2 separate regions of the Homo sapiens genome follow, and region 2 is linked to region 1. Evidence: fine-mapped expression QTL. A gene starts in region 1. The other region holds a variant in brackets. All regions are shown on one strand. Distances are from middle to middle.

Region 1 (10,482 bases):
AATAAAAGAAAATACAAATTTCAGAAATTATCTTTGAATTTTGGGCTATCATTTGGACAATCTACACTGCCCCCAAGGTTTGAAAGATGTTTTTAAAATGCAATAAATTATTTTGCTCAACAAATGTTAACTTAACTTTTCCACTGAATTTCTAGCTTATTTTATTAGCTCCACAATCTCAACAGATAACTACAATTACAACTACTATTACAACTACTATTCAGGACAACCACTTTTCATTCAGGACTCAGATCACACAGTAATTTTATTTACACTGTTCTGAGTACAAAGTGAAAAAATACAAAATAAATACTGTAACAGATTCAGTACCTTTAATGAGTTTAGTGAAAATACACAAATCTTCCCATTCATCTATAAACCGCCTTATTTACATTTTGAATACATGCTGTTTTGAGGCTGAACACATCTAGAGAGAATATTAACTCTGAAGGCCTGATACTCAACTGATGAGTCAGGTGCATTTCCTATCACAGATGCTAAATCCCATTATGCCACAGTTTCATTATGTATAAAACTGAGATAAAAGTAGCTATTTTGTGTTAAAAATCACTAAAATGCTTTGTAATGTGATTCTAGTTCATGGAGATATTAACTACTTTAATTATTACTAATTTCATCTGCTCATAGAGTATTTACAGTTTCAGATTAAAAACATTTGAAAAGCAAAAGCTGGAAAGAGTTAATAACTGTCAGAAAAAAGAATGCAAATCTTGACTATCAGTTGCTTGACAGTATAGGTTATTTTAAAAGTATTATTAATATTAACTTTCCACACCTTTTTATAAACACAGATATGTTCTTCTAAGCTCACCAAAGATAACGCCTTGTCCATTATGCTTTATCTGTATTCCAATTAACATCAATCTCTTCCTGAAGGCAATCAACACTTCCAACTTTCACGGAGCACCTGTCAAGTTCAGGCGCACAGGGTTGGGGAATGTAACACAAAGACAAGGCCTTAAGCCCTCAGAGTTTACATTCCAGAGAGGGCAAGAAACATGTAAATGCAGAATTTTACAAAGGTGATGTGTATTCTGATAGAATTATGCACAAAAGGGCAGAGAACACTCTCTTACCCCAGGCTTGGCAGATCAAAGAATTTCTGGAAGTTAACACCTGAGCTGAATTTGAAGGAAAAGGCGTCACCCCCTAGCTGAAAGAAGAGAAGTCAGAAAAGGCACGGAACAAGTGTCTGGGTAGAACGTAAAATCTACATAGGCAAGGAGGAGACGCCTCTGCGGCAGGGAGCTGTGCCACATTCACAGGGAGCACAGAGTTGAGGCTCTGGGTCAGTTTCCCAAACTTGAATCATTAGGATCAGCTGGAGATTCTACTCAGTAGTTCTGGGGTAGGAGCCAGCAATCTATTTGAACAAGCCTAGGAAATAACTGGCAAGGGGAAATACTGTTGTCAATGATAGGAAACAGGGGTTTTAAGCAGGAACTTGCTTGGGTTCCACTCTCTACTTTCCATAGCAGAGTGCAGATGCCCATCTCACCTACTTTTGGCATCACATAGTTTGGCATTTGATTTTATTTGCTATAACCTGTCACTATGCCCTCTTTTGTATTCTTTATGTGGGTCTTTTCTCCCTCAAAATACTGTAAGCCACATGACAAGAGGGGCTCACAAGCTTCTCATCTGTTCTCTAGAATATCTACATTCTACTAAACCTCTTGGAAAAAAAATACTTCTAAGGTTATTTGGAAAAGAGTATATGGGTTGCCTCAAACACATTTTATCCATCACTTTAGGAAAGCCGTATCTTTTACATTAGTCTTCATTAGGCTTCCTTGCTACTCCCTGTTACTTAATGACTTGCCCATAAATCCATTTTGTATGAGTAAATTGGTCTTGACACCACAATTTTTCCCATCACTTGGCTCAAGTAATTTTAAGTTTTCATCTTTTAAATTGGATAAAGCAGAAGAAACAGTTCTGACAATTTCTGAAGCAAGAGATGAGTCTCTTGAACCATAAACACATAAGAGGAAAAAGACCTTTCTTCAGGGTCACCCTGGTAAAACTTCTCCTTTCAAAATTAAAGTCATAATCACTCTCTATACCTCCTCTCCCTCCCCTGACTCCTACTCAGGCTTGTTTTAAATGACCTATTTTCATAAATGACTATTAAGTCAAAGGCAGTATATTTTCTGTCAGAAGCTACTGAGAGGTCTAGTATGAAAACATCTGCAAAGTGCCCTGCAGGGAATTTTTTTCTTTTTGGTAAAAGAATGAAGAAAAAAAAGAACTTTTATTAACCCAACTATGTGCTACCAGAGTTAGATTCATAAGCAATTTACAGAGAAACCCTGTGAGGTGGAAAGCAAAGCCAAGGCTGACCCCAAAGCCCAAGCCCTTTCACAGGTACAGCTGCCCTTCTGAATATGTTAAGATTCTCTGGTTAAATCTTGGGGAATCGCAATAGAGGCGGTGAGAAATCCAGTTGGAGAGTAGCAGCACTGGGGAAAAAAAATACCTAACGTGACAAAGTGCTGTAAATTAGCCTCAGAGAAATACAATGGACAGATGCAAAGAAATCTATCTCATGTGATTTGAGTTATGCCACTGAGCAGAAGACATGAAAATCCTTATTTCTTGGCAATGTTTACCTGTAAGTTTTTACCTACTCCTGGCGTATTTACAGTTTAGGGTGAAAAGAATTTGAAAAGCAAAAATTGCAAGGAAACATTACAATCCAAGTAATTGCAGCACTAGACTAATAGATCAGTGTCTGAGGAGGCGATCAGATAGGCAGAAGAACAGCTCTCTAAATCCTCCCTTCGGACACAGTGGAGTTCCTCGCTGTCTTTTGAAGGCTTCATACCAATCCCTCCTTCCTCGGCAGCAGGGGCTACTTCTCTCCCTCTCTCCCAAAGGCGAAGTGAGTCCACTCAGAGCACCTCTTTCCACTCTCAGTCATGGCCCTTATCAGGCTGTTTCGTAATTTTTCCATTTGCTGACTGGTCTCCCGTGCGAATTTAAAGCTTCTTGGGGACAGGGAAAATATCTTACTCACTTGGTGTCCCTGGTACCTAAGCACACTACCCAAGTCTGTGGAAGAGACATTCAAGGCCAGTGCCAAGCAAAATCCCTGTCCAGCCCCCATCAGCCCAAACTATGGATACAGTGACCAGTAGGATCATGCATGTACTTCAACAAATACTAACCAAGTAATCTCTATTATGAGCACCAAAAACTGAGAAAACAACTGTTTGTGTCATTCAAGAACCAGCTGTTTCCAAATCTAGAGATGCTTGTTAAAATGCAGATTTTCCCGAAGTCTACTCAGGTAAAGGCACTGTATTTTACATTTTATAAAGTTCTCCAGATAATTTCTATAAGCAAATGGTTCTCATCTAGGGGCAGTACCCCCAACCCTGCCCCACCCTGCTCAGGGACACTTGGAAATATCTGGGGACACTGAACTGTCATGACTGAGGAAGGTGGTGCTACTGCTATCCTAGTGGGTAGAGACCAGGGATGTTGCTAAACATTTTACAACTAACAGGACGGCCCTCCACAACAAAGGACTGCCCAGCACAAAATGTCAATGGAAGTTGACAATCTCTGCTATAAGCCCTAAATAAAAAAATAAATAAAAATAAATAAAAATAAAAAAAATTGTTCTTTGGTTTTAAAGTGAGGAGTTTTAAAGAAATCTCCAAGGTACCGCAAATGATAACCAAAAGCTACATTCTAACCAAATGATGGAGTGTAGGTTATAATTAATCAGGGGTGTTTTATTCTAACATATAGGGAACCTGAAAACAACTGTCAAAATCTTGAAGGGGTTGCCATTCTAAATAATGGATTTCTAGTCTTGGCCATGAAAATGATCACTTTCCAATTTTTCAGTGTTACAGGTCTCTCCGATGATTAAAATCTGTTAGTACACTTTTAAAAGGAGAGAATAACCCAGGTGATGTAAACAAATTTTTAAATTCTAGTATCTACTATGCCACAGTTCAGTGAGAGACTGCCTGATACAGCACAGAGTACTCACTTGGGAGGCAGGAAACCTGAGTTCTAATCCCAGCTCTGCTACTTAATTAGCTGTGTGACTTGGATAACTCATAATTTCACTTCTCATGGCCCCAGGTTCCTCATCTGCAATATAAGGGAGTTATGCCAGATGACCACTTAAGTCTCTTCCTGCCCTAACATTCAGGTAGTCTAACGCATTAACGCCAGTGACACACACACACACACACACACCACAAACACAAGCCTCTCAAGATTTCTGCACAATATTTAAGCAAGTAAAATTACCAAACATCTCTAAAACTTTTTTGGAAAACACTGCAGCAATGTGTATGAAGGCCTAAAACAGACCTTTCAGATGACAGCATCTAATCTGATAATTTCACTTCTGAGAATCTAGTCCAAGGAAATAATCTAAAAAATAGGGGGAAAAGAGTTTATCAAAGCACTATCTGGGATGCTAAGATGATGTAAAAATTCAAAAACAATCTAATGTCCCACAATCGGGAAATGACTGAATAATTTACGGGACCTAAACTGGGACCCACAATGATAGGACAATCAAAAGAAGATACAAAATTAGAATAATATTTAGGAAGAGTTTTTAAATGGAAGTGGAAAACTACACTGTTAAGTGATTAAACATGTACACTCTTAGTTCAAGTAGAAGCTAGCACATACAAGAGAAAATGATCGTAGGTGAAAGGGTTCAGTGAATATTATTTTCTTCACTAAAGTCTTCTATGTTTGCAATTTTCTACAATAGTCACGTATTACTAAGAGCAGTGGGGCAGGGTAATCCGCATCATCTTAATCCTACACACCTTAAAAATGCCTGCTATGCAGGTGTGCGGACACGCATACGCACAGAAAACCTTGGGCGATAGGACTTAAGACCATACAATCGGGTTCCTCGACCTGACAACTTGGTAAGACAGGCGAGTCCAGCCTTTAATTCCTGTGGTCAGGCGCAGCCACCCCGATGTAGGAGAGGGTTCGCAATTCCCTGAAGCCCTCCTGGAAGACAGGCGAAGCCTAGGCCTGGGTTCGGGATCCGCTTTCCCGCCGAATCTTGGGATTAGCGTCGGGGCTCCCTGGGGAACTTCAACAACCTGAATTGATCTCGGACGCCAACTCGGTAGGAGCCGGGACGGTGCCGCTCCTCTCCGCGCAGTCTAGGCGCCTCGCTGAGGGCGGTCCCGGCGCCCACCATCAGACCTCTCCCAGCCATTCCATGCGCGGAGAGCTTGGACGCGGCATTTCGCGGGGACCCGCCACCCAGCGGTCCCTTCCCGGAGCCCCAGCCTGTTCACCGCAGGCCCTTTCCGGGGCTGCCTCGCCCGGCCTAGGGCCGCTGCAGCCGCCGCTCCACAGCGCGACTGAACACTGGGGCACCGAACCTGGGGCTGCGCCCGGCCCCGTCGTCGGCCCGCGCAGCGGTGCGGCTCACCTCGCCGGCGGGAACCAGAACCCTCACTCCAGGCGCCCCACGAGCCCGGCCGCCGCGGATGATCCCAGCCAAAACCGAAAGCGCCGAGGCAGGGGCACTTTTCTGCCTCAGCCAATCAGTGCTCTTCTCTGCTACGGCAGCCCGCTGGGGCCGAAAAAGCCTGTCAGCACCAAAGCGCGCAAATCCAAGATTCCTGGTTTGTCTAGTAGCAAAATTGGTGCAGTGGAGTTCCTCTAACAGAAATCTGAGTACAAAACAAATACAATACAAAACAAAAACAAAATTCCAGGAAACTAGAAGTGATCTTTTGGGCAGGATTTATTTACAGAAGTGTAAAAAATAACTTGAAGTCATAGGAAACTGGAATTTACTGTTTAAGTAACGGCATTGTGTACCCAGAAACGTCCTTGAATAGTTTAAAGCAAATAAATAAATAAATGAAACACCTCAAGTCTTTAAATCTACCTCTGGATATTGATTAAATGTGTGAAGACTTAAGCCATTTTAGCAAGAGACTGTTTCCATGGCAATGTTAATTGATACAAAAATAATCAAAATCACTCAAGTAACTCCAAATTATAATGACATTAATTGTGTTACATTACTAGTTCCTATTGGAAATGGTGTGCAGACTTATTTCAGTGCTACTATGGGAACTTGGTTTGGAATTTTGCATGAATTCTCAATACTCTTTCTATTAATGGAATTGAAAGGGAAAAAGAAGAGAACTGTTACACCAGGACTTGATTCGTTTTTCCCCCTCCACATATACTCTCATCAGTTGAAAACTTATACTTTAATTATATTTATGATTTGTAACACTATACACAGAGTGATAAGATCTTTCAACACAGATCCTTAACCCCATTAGGTGTTATAAAATCTAAGATGCAAAATTTTTTTCGAAGATAAAGAGTTCCTCCCTTGTAAACTTCTTTTGGTTAAAGGCAGAAGAAATGAACTTTTGATTGATATCAGGGACAGAAAACAACTGGATATGATTTGTTAAAGAATAGAGACTTCCTTATATCCTTCTATAAAAGTTCAGTTTGGATAAAGACCGAACAGTTACTGATTTATTGTGAGGGCTGTATTTGAAGTTCTTGCAATATAAAATACAATGTAAATAAAAATTTTAAGAAAAGTACCATTTAAATCAAATAATTACGTGCAAAGAACAAACATAATAGGATAAAAAGCCCTGTTCCTAAAAACTTTCTTTGCAAACGACATCAAATTGCACATTCCTTACTGATTGTTTAAATTATTAAAAAAAAAAAGAAAATTTTTGATTCAAACTTCTTTCCCTTTCCTACAGAGCCCTAATCGAGCCGTTAACACTAGTGTGGTGGGTAGGGAGCCATGAGGAGTTTTAAGGGCCTAGTTCATCTGCTGAGCAGCTGCAACCTTCTCTAAGGGGAGTAGCTGGGTAAGGGCCCAGTTTGACACACGGGGTGGGCATCCTGAATTAATTCATGAGCTAACAAGCTTATAAAAAGTGTGGCTGTTCCCAAAAGCCCCTCAGCAGCTTATAAATGACTTTTACTAACTCACAAGGCAATTTTCCGTATTTCCCAGGTTTTTGCTTTCAGCATCTTTTATGATGCAAAGAAAACACTGCAAGACTTTTGGTGAATACTAGTCTTCAAAACCCTGAATGTAAACATTAATTTATTAAGGAGCCTTAAAGTCATAAAAATATTTTGGCAAGCTTTAGTTTAACTTATGTAGTTTAGTTTCATTTAGTTGTTAGGACTGATGAACCTACACTGACACATCATTATCATCCAAAGGCCAAAGTTTACATTAGGGTTCACTCTTGGTGTTGCACATTCTATAGGTTTTGACAAATGCATAATGAAATGTACCCACAATTACAGTATCATACAGAATAGTTTCACTGCCCTAAAAATTCTCTGTGCTCCACCTATTTATCCCTTCCTCCCCACTGGCAACCGCTGATCTTTTTTCTGTCTCCAAAGTTTTGCCTTTTTCCACAATATCATATATTTGGAATCATACCGTACACAGTTAGTGGTGCATACACTGCACCACCCCACTGTGTAGCCTGTTCAGACTGGCTTCTTTCACTTAGAAATATGCATTTAAGACCCCTCTGCGCCTTTTCATGGCTTGACAACTCATTTCTTTTAAGTTCTGAATAATATTCCATTATTTGGATGTACCACAGTTTATTTATCCATTTACCTACAGAAGGACATCTTGGTTGCTTCCAAGTTTGGGAAGTTATGAATAAAGCTGCTATGAATATGTGTATGCAGGTTTTTGTATAGAAATAAGTTTTCAGCTTATTTGGGCAAATATCAAGGAGTATGACTGCTAGATCATATAGCAAGGGTATGTTTAGTTTTGTAAGAAACTGCCAAACTGTCTTACAATGTGGCTGTACCATTTTGCATTCCCACTAGGAGTGAATGAGAGTTTCCATTGTTCCACATCCTCATGGGCATTTGGTGCTTCCAGTCCTTTGGATTTTGACTAGTCTAATAGCTGCTTAGTGACTATCTCATAGTTGTTTAAAGTTGTAATTCCCTAGTGACATATGATATGGAGGATCTTTCTATATACTTATTTGCCATATGTATATCTTTGGTTGTTCAGGTCTTTGGCCCAATTTTGAATCAGTTTGTTCTTTCTTTTTGTTGAGTTTTAAGAGTCCTTTGTATATTTTGAATAATAGTTCTTTATCAGATATGTGTTTTACAAATATTTTCTCCCAGTTTATGGCTTGTCTTTTCATTCTCTTGAAGCTATTATGCTTAAAATAGACAAATGCAGATATATAAATGCTAAGAGAACTCTTGCCACTTCATTGTTTGTCCCTTCTACAGTTCTATAGTACATATGCCTTTAAATAACTATGTCCTTCAATGTTTCATATTCATAAAAGATGGTCTCATGTCTAGCTTATTAAACACCCAACAGCCCTGTGAACATGTAGATGAATGTATTGTGATGTTGTTGTGGTTGTTGTTGATGATGATGATGATGATGATAAATACAAACATGTAATTGGATTGACCAACACTCTCCAAAGCAGATTTTAATATGTAACATGGATGTTAAGCTTCCAAGAATACTGGCTGGTCTTGTTGGAGCAATGCATTAACTGGTATGAAGTGCTGGCATGGACCTGAACCTTTCCTGGACCTTCAGACTGTACAATAGGAGCTCATAAGCTGTGATGTGCTAGTTTTGGATACTTGGGGCCACCATTATCTGCCTTTAATCATGGGATATGAAAATTATTTGTTATAGAAAATGAAGAGAGGCCGGGGGCAGTGGCTCACACCTGTAATCCCAGCACTTTAGGAGGCCAAGGTTGGCGGATCACTTGAAGTCAGGAGTTCAAGACCAGCCTGGCCAAGATGTTGAATCCCGTCTCTACTTAAAATTAAAAAATTAGCTGGGTGTAGTGGCACATGCCTGTAATCCCAGCTACCTGGGAGGCTAGGCATGAGAATCTCTTGAACCCGACAGGCTAAGGTTGCAGTGAGATGAGATCATGCCACTGCACTCCAGTCTGGATGATAGAGCGAGACTGTTTCTTAAATGAAGAAAGAAAGAGAGAAAGAAAGAAAGAAGAAGGAAAAAAGAAAGAAAGAAAGAAAGAAAGAAAGAAAGAAGGAAGAAAGAAAGAAAGAAGAAAGAAAGAAAGAAAGAAAGAAAGAAAGAAAGAAAGAAAGAAAGAAAGAAAGAAAGAAAGAAAAAGAAAGAAGGAAAAGAAAGAGGGAGGGAGGGGAAAAAAGAAAATAAGGAAACAGACAGACACTCTCTGGTTGTTGAATACCTTCTAAGAAGTGATACAAGCTCATTGACTGGTGGGCAAATTTCTCAGAAAAAGTAGTATGTCGTTTTGCTTACCCAAGGAAGTGATATATTCTACATCATGGGCGCTTGGTTTCAGATGTAACATGTGAGATGTTTAAATAATGTTCGGACTTCATCAGCCATCATTTTGGCATGACTTGAATTTTAAAAGAGATAGGATCAGAGTCTGAGCTCCTGGAAGGAGAATCTCCCAAATGCTGTGATGCTTTATACTCCACCGTGAACTCTAGAAAACCTCTCTCAGCTGTAAAATTTAGTGAAATCGGTGTGAAGCTGCCCTTGTATTTTAATCAAGATGAACTTGAAAGGTGAACATTATAAGTGGGAGAAATTATTTATAATTTGGTAATAAAAGTTTATGTCTAACACTCCAAATTTCATACATCTGCTATGTGCTGGCCCTGAGATATAAAACAATTGAAGTTGCCTTTACATTTGGCCTTATATGAAAGGTCATAAATTAGAGTGATAGCGTTCATCCTCTTTCCTAGCTCACAAAATTTCCATATTAACATCTTCACCTCAAACATAAATGGTTACCCAGCTACAAAGAAAAGAGTTGTGTTGGCCTTTATGAATTATAGTTTATGTTGGAAATCTGTGCTACACAGGGCTGCTATTCAGCTTGTAGGAGAGTACATCTACTTCAATGAAGCTAATTCTACCACAGTGAAACCAATTAAAATCATATGGCCAATTTAAATAAATATAGTATATAAACACTTGGGAATACTTTCAAAATTAGCAAATGGTTGCCAAGGTATGTGATTCTTTTAACTCTTAAAAATGCATTCATAGATATTCAAGGGATTTTCTCTGCTAGAATACCCAGTAACAAGTTTATTTTCAATAAACTCACTTTCAATTTTTAAAATGTACTTTCTAATGTGGTTTTAACTGATAATGTGAAAATGCTGGTTTTTTTAACTACAAAAAAACACACAGCTCATTTTATTATAATATATAGTAATTAAATTTATTCCAAAATATTAATGAATTGGACCAGTGCTTCATGTTTAGGCTTTCAAAAAATGTTTATAGCAAAAAACAGATGTCCTTAATTATTCAGGGTGAGTTATAAAATCCATGTGCTTTTTGTGGACGTTTTTTTTGCTAGCCCAGTGGTGCAGTTAAAATGCAGCATAATGTAAACTAGCAGGGTCAAGTTCAAGAAC
Region 2 (11,495 bases), 150 kb after region 1:
GTCGGGGCATTGCTTGTGCACACTCTTTCACCTTCTTTGATTGGCCTGCCCAGTCTCGGGGCCCTCGTACCTCAGCTCCTCAGCAGGCTTCCTTTTGCTTTCCTTCTGCTCCAGTTTCTCATAGTGCATGCAGGCAAGCAAGTCACGTTGGCTCTGCCCTATCTTCAGTCTGGATGAGATATCAAAGGCCAGCATTTTAGCTCAAGCCCAAGTGGAAGTCTCTAGCTCTGAGCACTGGAGCTTTGGGGGCAGAGCCTATCACTCTTATGTCAAAAAGTTCCCTGGGTCTGTTCTTCTCACTGAGAAACTACTGAGGTAAAAGGTAAAGGTTGGTAACCTCACTTCAAGCCATTCTTACCTGATAAAATTAAACCTGTATAGTCACCTACCATCCCCTTTTTAAAATCAACATTCACCAAGCAAACTTTTAATTGCGTTATGAGTTCCCATGGGCTGGTCAGGCTGTGTCACATTTATTGTCATCATAGGTTAATCAGGAGACATTTTGGTTGTCCACACCTCCACTGGATAACATGACCCATATCTGAGATACCAACTCTCAGCTTGTTGACAAACGTGGGTGTCTGAACCTGCAGAGCTAAAGACACGGTTAAAGTCACCAAGTTAATGGAATCCTATGAGTCTTGTGCATGAACAACCAGCTAGTCTTTCCCTTTAATTCCTCAAAACCAATAGCTGCTCTTCTTTGATATGTAAAACTTCCACAAGAACAATCTTGTAAGGTCTTTGAGAGGATTAAAAATAATGCAGGAGAGCACCTAATAGGGTGCCTGACACCCAGTAGACAATAACCATGAAAATTCCTGCTGTTGGTGTTATTTATTGGTACTTTGGAGATAAATATATATGTGTGTGTGTGTGTGTTTGTGTGTGAAATTACTCTTAAAAGGAGTAATAAATAATTACTGTCTATAAGAAGTAGAAGAAATTCTTTCCCAATGTATCTAAAGACAGTGAGGTAGCAGTTAGGCCACAATATTTCTAAAGGCGTAACATTCCCTACCCTTTTATAACTCTTGCAATTACTTGGTCTGAATGGCTCTGTCCAGCCCAACTCCCTAGCTGACCATTCATCTTCCAAATTATACCCAGGTGTCATCTGCTTTAAAGTGCCATGCATTCATGATTTGCCTCAATATCTAATTCTAGCCCTGTGAAGTATGGTTTTAAATCCTGCATGTGAAGGTGTTCATGGTCTGTATGGGTGCACAAGATCAGGGAACCCTCCCAGCTACCTTTTCATTAACTCCTCAGAGGCATTCATTAATGCTCCCAGCAGCAGGGCCTTTAAGTCCTTATGATAAATAACCACAGTAAGAAGTGTACACGCAGTGCACACACATGTGCATATGCATGCACATACACACACATATACACCTATAGAACTGAAACAAAAACCTTACAAAACAATACTTACCCTTAAAATGTAGATTAATTCAAAAGTCTATTTTTTAAATACTAAGACCCACTAAATTGATTTCAAAACCTATTAAAGGCTGAAGCCTGGCTATTTGAAAGGACACTGTAATGAGGACTCTAAACAGAGATCACAAGACCTTGTGTTGTGGACTGAGTCTAGTTTGTGACCATATTTTCATCTTGCAAGTCCTGAGAGTGCTGTATATCTATTGTGATATTTTGCTGTTATTATTGTTGTTTTTGATGTTGTGGCTGACAGATGATTATGAGACGTGGGTTAACTATTGTTTCACATTAGAAACTTATAAAAGTTGGTTTTTAGGAAAAGTATTTTTATTACCCACAACAAAGACTTCTGAGAAACTGGGTATTTTGAGCCTGTCCATAATATGGAGGGAGGAGGAGGAGGAGTGATGATGATGATGATGCTGATGATGGTGATGATTATGCTTTTAGTGTATGAAAGAATCATTGTAAAAGTACAGATACTGCCCACACACCTGGCACCAGATTCAGACCCATGGGAGAGGAGGGATGACACTCTTGCCCACCCAACACTCATTCTCCACAGGTCCACTGACTTGTCACATGGCAGAACGGAGAGCTACCTCAGGCTTCGGGAGGCAGACCCAGGTTATAAACCTGATGACACCATTTCCTATCCCTGCAACCTCAAGCACAGTATCTAATCTCTCTGAGCTTTGGTTCCCTCATCTGTGAAATGGACATAATACCAAATCCATGGACTGTTTGAGAGGATCGAGTGAGATTGCACCATCTGGACATTCATAGATTCATTGTGAGGATCACCTGCCACAGACAATGCAGTGCATTCTCTCCTAAATTCCTTTCAATATTTTGAAGTTTTAACATATGGGTCAGAAACTCAACGGCACTATGAAAGAGAATGAATCTCTATCATATTCCCCTTTTGATCTCAGGAGCTTGGCATTGGATTTATCATAGTCCTTGATTCATGGCACATCCCCATCATTGGTTCATTTATAACCTGCTTTTGCCTATTTGTTTAATTGTTTTTAATAATATCATAAGCACCTAGGTACCCACCACTTCTAACCAAAGGTAAGACCTTGATGATAGCCATTATCATGATGAGTCATGTGATTCCCACACTCTTTTCTTTCTACCCACCTACCTTATCCCCTTGCCTCTCTACTCCCAAAGTAGCCTTCATGTCTTCTCTTTAATTCTTGCAGACTCTATAAAACCTGCTGCCTTGGATGGAGTCCAGTTCAGACCCACACTGAGCTAAACTTTGGCTACATCCTAGGTCACTCCATTAACTATTTAGCCTGGTTCTTTTTTCCTTGGCAGACACATGGGTGGAGGTAGCAAGTATGTTGTGGGGAACAGGGTACTCTAAATGCCCTTACAACCTGAGTTTTTTTAAATCATGCCTTTTCTTCTTGTAGGGCAGCAGGATGGTCTTACTTTTCTTATTTCTCTGGCTGTGTGTTCATTCTATGCCAACCTCAGGAAAACAACATATGGGAGGTGGTGAGGGGAAGAATTCAGCACATGGTATCTTGGTTTAGTTCTCAGAAGCTCAGTAGAAGCTATTCCAAGGAACACTGTCCTTGGCTGAAGTAGGCTCTGTATGTCTACACTGTACTACCAGCTTCTAAAGCCATCATTTCAGCTGAGTGAACTAAGATAGTCAAAAGCTGGCATGGAAACACTTTGTGATGTGATCCTTTTGCTTAAAGGGACAGGAAACCCCTCAGCAGAGATTGCAGAACATTTTATCACCACAAGAGTAAAAACAGAACACCTCTGCTTCTTCACTCTTCTCTTCTCTCGTCCCACTTCTGTTGCTCCTGGGGTTGAAGAATGATTACATAATATCTCTTCTTGGACAGCTAGCTCTTAATTATCCACATTGTGGCATTTTTTGTAATCCTAAATTAAGTTTCTCTGTTACCCTGTACATTACCACAGCACCATCTCCTTTTCTGACCTAGATAGCATATTCTCAAAAACCAGGTGAATACAAACTCTTTATAAAATTAGCTAAGTCAAGTGTGCAAACATACACATTTCAAAGTTGTTCATAAATTTAGGATTATCAGAGCCACCACTCTCCTCTCTCAAGATACTAATAAAATTTTTATTTGAAGACTATTAAACTGTTCCTTAGCTTTTTCTTTTCTAAGATAAATCATCATGGTTTTTTTTATCTGTAGCAAGAATAAGAACCGCTCCACCTCCATTCCACCTCTAGCCCACAGATTACAGGTTCCAATAAACCCTGCTGAAGAACCTGCATTAGTAGACGAAAAATGAATTTCAAAACTTCTGCCAAGAGCTGGGCATAGTGGCTCATGCATATAATCCCAGCATTTTGGGAGGCCGAGGCGGGAGGATTGCTTGAGGCCAGAAGTTTGAGACCAGTCTTAGCAATGTAGTGATACCCCATATAGACAAAAAATGTTAAAAATTAACTGGATGCAGTGGCATGTGCCTATAGTCCTAGCTACTTGGGAGGCTGAGGTTGGATGATCACTTAAGCCCAGGAGGTCAAGGTTACATTGAGCTATAATTGTGCCACTACACTCCAGCCTGGGCAACAGAGCAAGACTGTCTCAAAACAAACAAACAAATAAACGAAAACCTTGTGCCAAGTGTCATCAGAGTTAGATGACACTTTTGTTTAACAAGATACCATTGAGATTCAAAAGTAAGTCCAGACCTGATTTGGAAAGACCTTGAGAATTAAATTTGTCAATATATTTACATAATGAAGTGAGGAAATACAGATAGTGTGTTCTAAAATGAAGGAGAAGAAAAGGAGGTTTCTGGGGGGAGAGAGAAAGAATGGGAAAGAGAGAGAAATTGAGAGAGAAAATGGCAGCAGGCCAGGCCCTGCAGAGAAAGACAACCAATATGAGATACTCCATGGTACAAATCACTGAAGAATTTCAGATGGTGATGTCTAATATGGAACTTCATTTTAAGTTGTACTCTGTTCTCAGCTATGCTAAAATCTCCATGCATCACTCTGAAACTCTTACTGAGCGTGACAGGCTTACACTTAAGTGACTATACCCAATACCCTATGGTAGTGGTGCTCTGGGGAATGAGGGGGAAAGGAGAGTGGGCACATTAGGGATAGAGCAGGATAGGAAGAGTGCTGCAGCCAGAGGATAGTATGGCTATGGGGACAGGCGGCAGGGGAAAGACAACAATCAGTGTCTGTCACAGAGGGGAGACTATGTCTTCCCTTCACTCAACAATCATTTTTTGAGTATTGAGTATGGACCTGGAATGATGCTAAATATTCAGGAGAAACAAGACATTGGCCCTGCACTTCCAAGCTCAATACCTAGCAGATAAATGAGAAAGCAATTAATATAGCTCTGGGGGATACGTACAATAAAATAATTTGCAAATACACATGATACATTAATAACCTGGAGGCGTGGAGGGAAGATCCCAGATGAGGTGATCATTTGGTCATGTTTCATTCAATTAAGAATGCTTTGAGGAGAAGGTGCAGAGCAAGATGACAAAATAGAAGCCTCCACCAATATCTCCCCTCCCCCAAGGACAACAATTTAACAACTATCTACACACAAAAAACACCTTCATAAGAACCAACAATCAGGTGAGCATTCACAGTACCTGGTTTTAACTTCATATCACTGAATGAGGTAGTGAGGCGAATAGGAGACAGTCTTGAATTGCTGACACCTCTCCTCCCCCAGCCCCAGCAGTGGCCATGTGGTGTGGAGAGGAAATCTGTGTGCTTGGGAGAAGGAGAGCACAGCAATTGTGAGACATTGCATTGAACACAGTAGTGCTCTGTCACAACAGAAAGCAAAACTGAGCTGAACTCCTCTGACACCTGCCCACAGAGGAAGTATTTAAACCAGTCCTAAGCAGAGGAGCATCGCCCATCCCAGTGGTCAGAACTTGAGTTCCAGCAAGGCTTTCCACCGTGAGCTAAAGTGCTCTGGAGTCCTAAATAAACTCAAAAGGCAGTCTGGGCCACAAGGACTGCAACTCATAGGCAAGTCCTAGGGCTGAACTGGGCTCTGAGCCAGTGAACTGAGGGGCATGTGACCTAGGGAGACACCTTTCAGGTGTCTGCACAGCTCACAGCTCCAAAAGAGACCCCTCCCTTCTGTTTGAGGGGAGGAGAACAAAGAATGGAGAGGACTTTGTCTTGCATCTTGATACCAGCTCAGCCACATTAGGATAGAGCACAAGTCAGAGTTATGAGGCCTCCATCCAGGCCTTAGTTTCAGGACATTTCTAGACACACCCTGGGCCAGAAGAGAACCTGCTGCCTTGAAGGGAAGGACCGAGTCCTGGAAGGATTCATCACCTGCTGACTAAAGAACCCTTGGGCCCTGAACAATTAGCAGTAATACCCAGGTAGTATGCCGTAGGCCTTGGGTGAGACTCTGAGACTTGCTGGCTTCAGGTAAGACTCAGTACATTTCCAGCTGTGGTGGCTATGGGCAGAAACTCCTCCTGCTTGAGAAAAGTGAAGGAAAGGTAAAGAGGACTTTGTCTTGCACCTGAAGTACCAGCTTGGCCACAGTAGAGTAGATCACCAAGTGGGTTCTTGGGGTCCCTGATTCTAGGCCTTGGCTTTTGAATAACATATCTGGACCTTCCCTGGACCAGAGGGAGCCCACAGCCCTGAAGAGTCACAGGCCAGGCAGCATTCACCACAAAGTGACTGAAGAACCCTTAGGCCTTAAGGGAGATATTGGCAGTAGCCTGGGGGTACTCCCTTTGGGCCTGTGGTGGTAGCCATGAGGTGAGGCTCCTCTGCCTGTGGAAAGTGGGGGAAGAGTGGGAAGGACTGCATCTTGTGAGTTGAGTGGCAGCTCAGCTATTGTGCAATATAGCACCAGATAGACTTCTAAGGTTTTTGATGTCAGGCCCTGGTTCCTGGATGGCACCTCTGGACCTGC[T/C]TGGGGCCTAAGGAAACTCAGCATCCTGAAGGGAAAGACACCAGCCTATCTCCTTTGCCACCTGCTGACTGTACATCATCAGGGCCTTGAGTGGACATAGGTGGCAGCTAGGTAGTAGTTACAGTGAGCCTTGGGCAAAATCAAGTGCTGTGCTGGTTTCAGGTCTGACCTAGTACAGTCCCAGTGGTGGTTGTCATGGGGGTGTTTGTGTCACCCCAGCCCCAGCCCCAGGTGTCTCAGAACAGAGAGAAAGAGTCTCTATTTGTTTGAGTGAAAGGAAGAAAACAAGGGTCTCTGCCTGGTAATCCAGAGTGTTCTTCCCGATCTTATCTAAGACCATCAAGGCAGTACCTTTACAAGTCTGAAAGAAACACAATGTCACTGGGTGTGGGGTGCCCTGTAATGCAGATATGGGTTAGATCAGAACACCTACATTCTTTCAAATAGCTGGAAAACCTTCCCAAGAAAGACAGGAACAAATAAGCTCAGAGTGCAAAGACTACAATTAATACCTAACTTTTCTATGCACAGACATAGATGAACATCCACAAGCATCAAGACCATCCATGGTGAGGTCATGATCTCACCAAATAAACTAAATAAAACACCACACCAAGGACCAATCCTGGAGAAATAGAGATATGTGACCTTTCAGACAGAGAATCCAAATTCGCTGTGTTGAGGAAACTCAAAAGAAATTAAAGATAATACAGAGAAGGAATTCAGAATTCTATCAGATAAATTTAACAAAGAGATTAAGGTAATTAGAAAGAATAAAGCAGAAATTCTGGAGTGGAAAAATGCAATTGACACACTGAAGAATGCCTCAGAGTCTTTTAATAACAGAAACAATCAAGCAGAAGAAAGAATTACTGAGCTTAAAGACGGGCTATTTGAAAATACACAGTCAGAAGAGACAAAAGAAAAAAGAACAAAAAATAATAAGGCAAACCCACAGCATTTAGAAAATAGCATCAAAAAGGAAAATCTAAGAGTTATTTGCCTTAAAGAAGAGGTAGAGAAAGAGACAGGGGTATACATTTTATTCAAAGGGATAAGAACAGAGAAAGTCCCAAACCTAGAGAAAGACATCAATGTCCAAGAACAAGAAGGTTATAGGACACTCACTAGATTTAACCCAAAGAAGATGACCACAAAGCATTTAATAATGAAACTTCCAATTGTCAAGGTTAAAGAAAGGATCCTAAAAGCAGCAAAAGGAAAGAAACAAATAACATACAATAAAGCTCCAATATATCTGGCAGCAGACTTTTCAATGAAAACCTTACAGGCCAGGAGAGAGTGGCATGACATATTTATAGTTCTGAAGGAAAAACATTTTACCCTAGAATGGTATATCTGGCCAAAAAAAAACAAAAAAACAAAAAACAAAAAAACAATAAAACAACAACAAAAAAAAACCCTTCAAACATGAGGGAAATAAAGATGTCCCTAGACAAACAAAGGCTGAGGGATTTCATCATTATAGGACCTGTCCTATAAGAAATGCTAAAGGAAATACTTCACTGAGAAAGAAAAGGACATAATGAATAATGAGTGCAAAACTCACTGGTAATAGTAAGTACACTGAAAACACACAGACAATTATAACACTGCGTGTTTATAACTGTGGTGTGTAAATTACTCTTATCTAAGTAGAAAGACAAAACAATGAATCAATCAAATATAATAGCCACAACTTTTCAAGATGTAGACAATACAATAAGATATAAATAGAAACAATAAAAAGTTAAAAAGCAGGGAGACAAAGTTAAAGCATAGAGTTTTTATTAGTTTTCTTTTTCCTTGTTTGTTTATGTAAACAGTGTTAAGTTTTTGTCAGCTTAAAATAATGGGTTATAAGACAGTATTTACAAGCCTTGTAGTAAGCTCAAATAAAATAATACAATAAATACACAAAAAATGAAAAGCAAAAAATTAAATTATACCATCATAGAAAATCACCTTCCCTAAAAGAAAGACAGAATGGAAGGAAAGAAGGAGAAGACCACAAAACAACCAGAAAATAAACAACAAAATGGCTAGAGTAAGCCCTTACTTATTGATAATAACATTGACTATAAACGAATTAAACTCTCTAATCAAAAGACATAGAGTGGTTGAAAAGATTTTAAAAACAAGGTCCAATGATCTGTTATCTACAAAAAACAGACTTCACCTGTAAGACACATGTAGACTGAAAATAAAGGTATAGAAAAAGGTATTCCATTCCGAAGAAAACCACAAAAATGCAGGACCAGCTATACTTACATCAGAAAAAATAGATTTCAAGACAAAAACTATAAGAAGAGACAAAGAAGGTTATTATATAATAATAAAGAGGTCAATTCAGCAAGGGGATATAAGGATTGTAAATATATATGCACCCAATACTGGAGCATCCAGATATATAAAGCAAATATTATTAGAACTAAAGAGAGAGAGACTCCCATACAATAATAGCTGGAGACTTCAATACCCCACTTTCAGTATTGGACAGATCTTCCAGACAGAAAATCAACAAAGAAACTTCAAACTTTATCTGCACTATAGACCAAATGGGCCTAATAGATATTTACAGAACATTTTATGCAACAGCTGCAGAATACACATTCTTCTCCTCAACACATGGATCATTGTCAAGGATATATCATATGTTAGGTCACAAAACAAGTCTTAAAACATTCAAAAACTTTGAAATCATATCAAGCATCTTCTCTGACTGCAATGGAATAAAACTAGAAATCAATAACATGAGGAATTCTGGAAACTATACAAGCTATGGAAATTAAATATGTTTCTGAATGACCAATGGGTCAATAAGACAAATTTTTAAAGGAAATTGAAAAATTTCTTGAAACAGATGATAATGGAAACACAACATACCAAAACTTATGGGATACAGCTAAAGCAGTACTAAGGGAGGAGTTTATAGCTATAAGTGCCTACATCAGAAAAGAAGAAAAAAGTCAAATAAATAACCTAATGATGCGTCTTAAAAAACTAGGAAAGCAAATGCAAACCAAACCTAAAGTGAGTAGAAGAAAAGAATTGAAACACAGAAAACAATACAAAAGATCAACAAAACAAAAAGTTGGTTTTTTGAAAAGGTAAACTAAAGTGGCAAATGTTTAGTCAGACTAAGAAGAGAGAAGACTATATGAAAACTATGAAATGTGGATGAAAGAAATTAAAGAGGACACAAATAATGGAACAATATTCCATGTTTATAAATTGGAAGAGACAATATTGTTAAAATGTCCATACTATCCAAAGCAATCTACAGATTTAATGCAACCCTATGAAAATACCAATGACATTTTTCGCAGAAATAGAAAATATAATCCTAAAATGTATGTGGAACCACAAAAGACCCAGAATAGCCAAAGCCATATGAAGCAAAAAGAACAAAATGGAAGGAATCACATTAACTGACTTTAAATCATAGTACAGAGGTATAGTAACCGAAACAGCAGGGTACTGGCATAAAAACAGACACGTAGATCAGTGGAACAGAATTAAGAACCCAGAGATAAATCTATATAACTACAGTGAACTCACTAGACAAAGATGCCAAGAACATACTTTGAGGAAAGGACAGTCTCTTCAATAAATGGTGCTGTAAAAACTGAATATTCATATGCAAAAGAATGAAACTAGACTTAATCTCTTGCCATATCAAATAAAAATGAATTAAAGACTTAAATCTAAAACCTCCAATTATGAAACTATTAAGAAAACATTGGGGAAACTCTCCAGGACAGTGGAGTGGGCCAAGATTTCTTAAGGAATACCCCCACAAGCACAGACAACCAAAGCAAAAATGGACAAATGGAATCACATCAAGTTAAAAAACTTCTGCACAGCAAAGGAAACAATCAACAAAGTAAAGAGACAACCCACAGAATGGGAGAAAATATTTGCAAACTACCCATTTGACAAGGGATTAATAACCAGAATAGATAAGGAGCTCAAACAACTCTATGGGAAAAATTCCAATAATCTGATTTTAAAACAGGCAAAAAATCTAAATAGACATTTCTCAAAAGAATATATACAAGTGGCAAATAGTTTTCAATGATGTCTCAACATCAATGATCATCAGAGAAATGCAAATCAAAATTACAGTGAGATACCATCTCACCCCAGTTAGAATGGCTTTCATCCAAAAGTAGGCAATAACAAATGTTGGTGAAGATGTGAAGAAAACGGAACCCTCATAAACTGTCAGTGGTAATGTAAATTAGCACAACCACTGTGGAGAACAGCTTGGAGGTTCCTCAAAAACTGAAAATAGAGATACCATACTATCTGGTAATTCCAGTCCTGGGTATATACCCAAAAGAAAGGAAATCAATATATTGAAGAGATATTTGCACTCCCATGTTTATTGCAGCACTGTTCACAATAGCCAAGATTTGGGAGCAACCGAAATGCCCATCAGCAGATGAATAGATAAAGGAAATGTCGTACATATACACAATGGAATACTATTCAGCCATAAAGAAGAATGAGATCCTGTCATTTGCAATGACATGGATGGAAGTAGAGGTCATTATGTTAAGTGAAATAAGCCAGGCACAGAAAGACAAACTTCACATGTTCTCAATTATTTGTGAGAGCTGAAAATTCAAGTAATTGAGCTCCTGCAGTTCCAGAATAGAAGGATGGTTGCCAGATGCCGGGAAGGACAGTGGGGCAGGAATTGGGGGAAGGGGAGAAAGCGAGGATGGTTAATGGGTACAAAAAAATAGAAAGAATAAATACAACTTAGTATTTTCTAGCACAATGAGGTGACTATAGTAAAAAATAATTTAATTGTACATTTAAAAATAACTAAAAGAGTATAATTGGATTGTTTGTAACAAAGGATAAATGCTTGAGGTGGTGGACATCCCATTTACACTGATGTGATTATTACGCATTGCATGCCTGTATCACTTGTAACCAATAAATATCTACACCTACTATATACCCACAAAAGTTAAAAATGAAAAACAAAGAATGCTTTGACTACAATAACAGAAAAAACAAGCAGCCAGATTCATGGCCAGAATTTTCCATTCCCCAGGTTAAACAGAGTCTAATTTTTTCTTATAACAAGAAACT

The links. PIP is the estimated chance that this variant, and not a neighbour inherited with it, causes the effect. A credible set is the group of variants that fine-mapping cannot tell apart.
Region 2: its variant is the best candidate, but not a certain one, in a credible set for the expression of LSM6 in whole blood (INTERVAL, PIP 0.67).

The regions. Positions count from the first base shown.
Region 1 is chr4:146,170,785-146,181,266 of GRCh38, reverse strand. LSM6 (LSM6 homolog, U6 small nuclear RNA and mRNA degradation associated) reads right to left here and starts at 5,549. Exons shown (of 4, transcript NM_007080.3): 1 at 5,456-5,549. RefSeq lists a silencer at 5,340-5,399.
Region 2 is chr4:146,017,557-146,029,051 of GRCh38, reverse strand. No RefSeq gene overlaps it. Among named protein-coding and RNA genes, the nearest start is that of ZNF827, 84 kb to the right of the region's middle. The variant T/C (reference allele first, on the strand shown) is at 6,387.